2 linked regions of the Homo sapiens genome follow. The protein of the gene in region 2 interacts with the protein of the main gene of each other region in a pairwise test. Each region holds a gene or a part of one and is shown on either strand. Other genes may lie near its edges.

The links.
Region 1: the proteins of TBC1D16 (region 2) and RGS17 interact in a two-hybrid assay, tested with the Homo sapiens proteins (one large-scale study listed by BioGRID).

The regions. Positions count from the first base shown.
Region 1 is NC_000006.12:153,121,047-153,124,868, forward strand, and holds part of RGS17 (regulator of G-protein signaling 17), read right to left. Parts: intron 1-3,822. UniProt on the Homo sapiens protein: Regulates G protein-coupled receptor signaling cascades, including signaling via muscarinic acetylcholine receptor CHRM2 and dopamine receptor DRD2.
Region 2 is NC_000017.11:80,025,873-80,029,694, forward strand, and holds part of TBC1D16 (TBC1 domain family member 16), read right to left. Parts: intron 233-3,822; exon of another isoform or gene 1-232. UniProt on the Homo sapiens protein: May act as a GTPase-activating protein for Rab family protein(s).

The sequences.
Region 1 (3,822 bases), on a different chromosome or scaffold from region 2:
CCTCAGACTTGTTCATGTTTTTTTTTTTAATTTTGCTATTCTTTGGTACAGAGTAAGGATTGAATTACACAGCACATTAATTAAGAAAAAGGAGGCAGAAAACAGAAGAGGTAAAACTGATGAGTAGCAGAAACTAAAGAAAACTTGGAAATCTAATGCAAACACTTGGAAATTCAGACCCACACAGGCTGTATTTACCAATGCACCGAAAGACTTTTCTCTCTTTCCTTTGTTGCTGCCTCTCTCTAACATAACATTTTAGACTGTATCCTCTGAACTCTACTTTCAGGAACATAACCTATTTCTTTTTCCCTAAAATCTAACCAGACTAGAACTCTCTTGGGGGCAACAGTCAGAGGCCAGCACACCAAGTGCCAAAGTTGATTTTGGTTGCAATCAGCCACCTCACTGAGTAACTACATTCAGTGATCCTACTAAGCCATAAATCCACATTCTCTTAAAAATAATCTCAGTGGCAATGAGCAGACAAGCTTTTCCAAGCTCACTTGTTACTCCCCCAAAGTCTTAATAAATATTTTAGATATTAAGTCATTGCAATGTCCTGTTGCTCAATAAAAATAAAAAGCTTATCATACACATTTATTCACTGCTGTTATTTTGAAACAAGACATAAAGGTCTTTACATCACAAAGATACAGTTGATTTTATATAAGATGTACTCGAAATAGTTGCATTTAGAAAGAAAACTTGGGAATAGATTCTTTATCAATGTGATTGAATTTCAGTATCACCTACGAGAATTTTAAACTATTTAACATAACCTATGTTAGGTCAAGAAAAGGGCTTCACATTTTTTCCTTCCTGGAATTAACATTTATTTAATGGAATTCTACCTTACGAAACCCCACTTGCATTACCCAGATGTTCAGTCAATGAAATTACTGAATTAATGGGAAAAAATTACCTTCTTAAGATTAGGTCACATGAATTCACAAAACTGGAAGTGGTTACATAATATAGCAGAGTTACATAATAACGTATTGAATGATATTATACTTTAAGATATAATGAGTTTTTAACTAATAGTCTTGTTTTCTGAGCCCAGCCTTCCTGCTTTTTACTTGACTCTCCTTCTCATCTCATTTGTGCCTCCCCCTCTATTCTCAAGTATGTATCCTTTCTTCCTGAATATTTGGCTATGATTACGTAGGCACCATATCAGTTGTTTCCCATAAATAAAAGGGGAAACATACATATATGCATACATTGACACATAAAATCATCTTTTCAAAATATTACATTTTGGAGACAATTCCAGTGTGGGAAGGATTTCTCTATTGTTTGGTTTTGAGTACTCAAAATGATAAATAAATGTAACTTTCAACTAAATCCATCATTTATATAAACATAGGTGGGTCATTAGACATTGAATTTACTGAAAGTAATTTAGTTTAAAATGTTTCTTCATCAGTGAAAATTGAAGTTACTGGACTTGAGTAGATGAAGAAAACATGGACTCCAATAGCTTGAGTCAAAATTGCCAATATTATTTACTGATAAACTAGCATAGAAATTACAATCAGGGCAGTTTATTCCTACCAGAAGAAAATAAGACAGTAGGGTTTTTTGTTTGTTTGTTTTTTCCTGGCAGATAGAACATTTGAGCTCTTGATATGTTTTAAATTTCAGGCAACAAAATTATGTAAATATCCTAAAATTACATAAAATATGAGTAAACACCTATTTTTCTATGAACTATTAGATGTATGAAAAGCAAAGATGCTCCTTTCTCCTCAATTTATCTATTTAGAAATACTAATAACAATAATAATCATAAGAGAGTGTGGGGAAAATCAAATGTCAAGCCTCACCCAAACAGTAGGTAGGGAAAATGTTAGTATTCCAATTCACAATGAAGCCTTTTACTCCAATGTACATTGGAGTAAATTGGAGTATTTAATACTCCAATGTACATTGGAGTACATTGGAGTACATCAGAGTACATTGGAGTATTTAATACTCCAATGTACACTGGAGTAAATTGGAGTATTTAATACTCCAATTCACAACACGGCATTCAGTTAATCATAATAGTTTGTAAATTATATAGGTCATTGTATTGCTTTATAGCATGTCTATGCCTTAGTGCCCTAATAAAAGACACTAGTTTTCCTTTGCTTTTATCTAGTGAATTTTGATCATACTAAACTCATAGGTCACAGGTAAATTACTGTATGGTAGTGCTGAGTGGCAATAAATTGAGAAAGAAATAGGTTCAAATCTTACATTAGCATACATTTTTACTTATTAAGAGCCCGGTCAAAGATTTAATGACAAGAATGTTAAATGTAGTGGCTGACAGGAGTGCTGAGCTTACCTTCAAGTTAATTCATTCCTAATGTCAATGTCTTTCATTTCCATACTTAGATATATTAACTATCTATTCATCACATATTTCTAGAACGGGTTTGAAGTCTTCACTCTGATCTTATAAATCATACAAAATCTTTCCAGATCGGAGCAAATCTAACTGCTAGATTTAGAAATTGCCCTAGTGATTTTAACAAGTTGATATTGGAGATGGTTTTCTTTCTCAAACTTAAATGTATTTATTCTTCATCCAAACTGAGGATTCTGGGGTTTTGGTCAAGGTACTATATTATAAACAGATTGTAATCAAAGATGGAACTGCAGCAGTATCAGGAAAAAATTCTAAAATATTGCTAGTGCATGGGAAATGTGGACCCGGAAGAAGGGCAGGGATCTCACTCTCCTTCCCTTTTGTTCATCCCCTACACCAGCGTTTTAGAATATCTTACATTACAATGATTACGCAGGGTAGCCTACAAGTGAGAGGGGAAAAGGCATAGTACAGATGTATGTACACATTTTCTTTATTTCAATGAGAAGGAATTGGGTGTTGAGGTCGGTTCACAAAGAGGGTTAAGCCTCCAGTCTGTTGTTGTTCTGATACTATGGTGGAGGTTGTTAAATCATCCACCAACAGAGCCACTTCCTGCTTTTCTTCCCCTTATCTCTGAGTCTCTGCTTAGCAGCTTGCTTGAACATTAGTTGTAGAGGCTCCTAAATTTTGAGATCAATTGGTCTATTGCTAAACCCTAAGGAAATCATTGCCTATTACTCCCATGTTGTATTTAGCTATGACTTCAAAGCTTAGAATGACCAGTACTCACTAGATAAAAGAAAAATAACTTGAAGAAGCTTATATGTGAACTCCTTGTGGAAAGGGGCCACGTTTAATTAATCTTTGTATCCAAAAATATCACACAGCCTAGCACATAGTGGGTGCTCAAATATGTTTGTAAGCAGGTTGGTGAAACAAACTAGTCAGGAAAGGATAACACACGAAATACATGGAGAACAACCTAAACATTAATAAGGACCAATTAGTTAAGACAAATACTGGCACGAAATTAAAACCCCTTCAAGCCCTTATTGTTTACATGATGTTTCTTGTACCTATTTTGATTTATTAAGTCTAATACAATACCTAACACTTCCATACTGAGTACCAATATATGAAAGATTTTATAGACATAATTTCTTTTAATCCTTTAACATTTTTAAATTGTCTTCAGTTTTACAGATAATGATACTAAGGCTCAAAGAAGTGAAGGCTAAATCCCTGGTTATTTGAATCTAAAACCTGGGCTCTTTCCACCAAATTACATTCTCTGCTTTTAAAGTCTCCTTCTTTTAAGGGCAATTTTCCATAAGCTTTTTTACTTCATGTGAATTAAATAATATGGATTGCTGTGTTTCAAATAGCAAACTTTCAAATATTTGTTGAGTTTGATTAATCAAATCCTGAAAAAATAGGAGAGTTTAGGGTAATAGGAC
Region 2 (3,822 bases):
GGAAGCCCCACAGGGAAGCAGTGGCCCCCCGCCCCCTATCTCCTCACATACAGCACTCTGTACCTTCTGCTCATTTTTCTGTAAACCTAAAACTGCTCTAAACAATGAAGTCCGCCACGCAGAAACTGCACACGGATGTTGAGAGCAGCTTTACTCATAACTGCCAACACTCAGAAGCAACCGAGATGTTCTCCAACAGCTGAATAAATAAATAAACTGTGATACACCTAAATAATGGAGGATTATTTAATACTAAAAAGAAAGGGGCGGCCGGGCATGGTGGCTCACGCCAGTAATCCTAGCACTTAGGGAGGCCAAGGCGGGTGGATCACCTGAGGTCAAGAGTTCACGACCAGCCTGGTCAATATGGCAAAACCCCATCGCTAATTTAAAAATACAAAAATTAGCCAGGCATGGTGGCGCACGCCTGTAATCCCAGCTACTCAGGAGGCTGAGGCACGAGAATCACTTGAACCCGGGAGGCAGAGGTGGCAGTGAGCCAAGATTGTGCCACTGCACTCCAGCCTGGGTGACAGAGGGAGACTCTCTCTCCAAAACAAACAAACATCATCTTCTGGGGGAGGGGGGAATCTATTAGTTTAAAATAAAAAGAGGCTTGAGATCAGGAAGCTTGCATCCAAAGAGGTGTGGAGGAGGCGTGGACGAGGGTGGAGTTGTGTGGACCAATGCCGAGAACAGGCAGGCACTAGAGGCAGGCTGAACAGAGCAGAGTCAAAGACAACGTTTGGTTCCTGGACTGAGAACCCAGCTGCCGGCAGCCCAAGTTGTCTGATGGGAGAGTTTCCTAATGTCCTTGAATCTGCAAGATGCAAGACTTTGAATGGCCCTTGCCCACAGCAGTGTGGAGCAGTTGATGCCCATGACCTTAGGGACCTGGAGTCCTGCGGGGTTTGAGGGGGGCAAAGAAAACCATTCGTCCTGGGAGGCAAGGAAGCTGGATGTCAGGAAGGCTGCCCCAGTATGGAACTCAGAGCAAGGGGGACATCCAGGTTCCCTTCTGCGGGCCTGGGGCTCTTCCTAGGGGCCAGATGCCTTCTCATCAGTACACGAACAGAGGCGGGGGCAGCCAGCAGAACTCCTAAGACACAAAATGAGTGAACACTGGAAAGGGAGCTGAGACAGGCCTGCAGCAAAGAACAGACACCAGGCTTTTCCAATCTATAGGAAGGACTCAGAGTTCATCAAAATCAAAATAGCAATGCAAGATGCTCAAAGCACCTTGTGGCAATTATTACAAATCCCCTCCCCAAATCCTGAGAGATGAAGATGGATAGAGAAGCTGAGGAGGCTGGGCACGGTAGCTCATGTCTGCAATCCTAACAGTTTCGGGAGTCCGAGGTGGGCGGATCGCCTGAGTCCAGGAGTTTGAGACCAGCTTGGGCAACATGGTGAAACCCCGTCTCTACAAAAAAGCAAAAATTAGCTGGGCATGGTGGCATGTGCCTATAGTCCCAGATACTCAGAAGGCTGAGTCAAGAGAATCGCTTGAGCCCAGGAGTTCGAGATCAGCCTGGGGGACATGGAGAAACCTTGTCTCTACAAAAAAACTTTAAAAATTAGCCAGGCTTGGTGGCCTGTGCCTATAGTCTCAGCTACTCAGGAGGCTGAGGTGGGAGGATCGCTCGACCCTGGGAGTTGAGGCTGCAATGAGCTGTACTTGCGCCACTGCACTGCAGCCTGGGTGACAGAGCAAGACCCTGTCTCAAAAAAAAAAAGAGGCCGGGTGCAGTAGCTCATGCCTGTAATCCCAGCACTTTGGGAGGCTGAGGCGGCAGATCGCTTGAGGTCAGGAGTTTGAGACCAGCCTGGCCAACATGGCGAAACCCCGTCTCTACTAGAAATACAAAAACTAGCTGGGCATGGTGGCAGGCGCCTGTAATCCCAGCTACTTGGGAGGCTGAGGCGGGAGAATTGCTTGAACCCGGGAGGCAGAGGTTGCAGTGAGCTGAGATCGCACCACTGCACTCCAGCCTGGGCAACACGGCAAGACTCCAACTCAAAAAAAAAAAAAAAAAAAAAAGAGAAGCAGCTAAGGGTAGATCCTTGACAATAAGAACCCCCCATTCTCCTCAAATGCATCCACTTCACATTTGTATTTTGAAACGGTGATGTCCTTGTTGGTTTGTGTTTTCAATAATAAGCTCCCGAGTGCATGACACCTCCGAGACGCTCCTTTTATAATGTGCCTCCCAGAATGCCATCTTCGTTAAGGTTCCAAATGCCTTGTTTTTGTTGATGGAAAGGATAGCAATGCCAACTTGGCAGTTGGCACAAAGAATTCACAGATGGATTGAAGCCAAGATCTACAATTTGCATCAGCTTGAGTGTACAAAAAAAAGAAAAGAAAAAAAGAATAGCCGGGCGCAGTGGCTCACGCCTGTAATCCCAGCACTCTGGAAGGCCGAGGCAGTTGCATCACCTGAAGTCGGGAGTTCATGACCAGCCTGGCCAACATGGTAACACCCTGTCTATTAGAAATACAAAAATTAGCTGAGCATGGTAGCACACACCTGTAATCACAGTTGCTCGGGAGGCTGAGGCAGGAGAATCGCTTGAACCCAGGAGGCAGAGGTTACAGTGAGCCAAGATGGCACCATTGCACTCCAGCCTGGGTGACAGAGCGAGACTCTATCTCAAAAAAGAAAAAGAAAAAAAAGAATGATTTTAGAAGGCAAAAAGTAAAAGCGTCAATGCTGATTCTAAACCATCAGACCGGGGCATGATGACCAGTTGATTTTTTTTTTTTTTGAGACAGAGTCTCGCTCTGTCGCCCAGGCTGGAGTGCAGTGGCGCAATCTAAGGTCACTGCAATCTCCGCCTCCTGGGTTCAAGCAATTCTCCAGAGTAGCTGGAATTACAGGCGCGCGCCACCACACCCAGCTAACTTTTGTATTTTTTTTAGTATAGACGGGGTTTCACCATGTGGGCCAAGATGGTTTCAATCTCCTGACCTCGTGATCCGCCTACCTCGACCTCCCAAAGCGCCGGGATTACACGCGTGAGCCACCGCCCCGAGCCGACCAGTTGATTTCTGTGCTGCTCAAAGCCATTGGTGACCAGTAGGTAGGGCCAGATTTCTGCAAAATAGGCCATTGTGTAATTCGAAAGGAAAGAACAACTTGGCCATTCCTCAACAAAAATACACAGGCTCATAAAACAAAAAACTGTGCAGAAACTCCTCCACCAGAGAGTCATTCTTTCCCAGAAACCTGCAACTCTTTAAGAATTAGAGCACCATTGAGAAGCATGGAGTCGCAGCACCTGCAGCTGGCAGGGGTGTTAAACTGGTGATAAAGGTAGCTGAAGTCTGCTTCCAGGACGAGAGCGCTTTGAGGGGGCTGGAGTAGGGGGAGCTGCCTGCAAGGTGAAGACGTGGGAAACCTCAGAAGCCCTAAGGAGAGAGGGGCGGGCAGGGGAGGAGAGGGGCAGCAGATCTATTCTTTCACAATGCTGTTGGGAACTGGCCAGGCTGTTGGGTTGGAGCTGACACAGGGCGCAGCTGTGAGCCTGCTGTTAACCACACATGTTCCCTTCCCGTCCCCTAGGAGCCACTTGGCCACTGAAACTTGGCCTGGAACAGCCAAAGATTTGGTGACTCACTGTGTGAGCAGTGGGGGTGGGTCTTCTCTAGCAAATATTCACAGGGCATGAGGTTAGGACATCTACTACCCAAAATTCACTGCCCAAGATTTGGTGACTTATACCCTAGAAAAGAGAGTCCTCCTCAATGTAGAAAGTGGCAAAGTCACCAGAAAACCAGAAATGAGCAAACACAGATAAAGAAATGACACAACCGTCTCC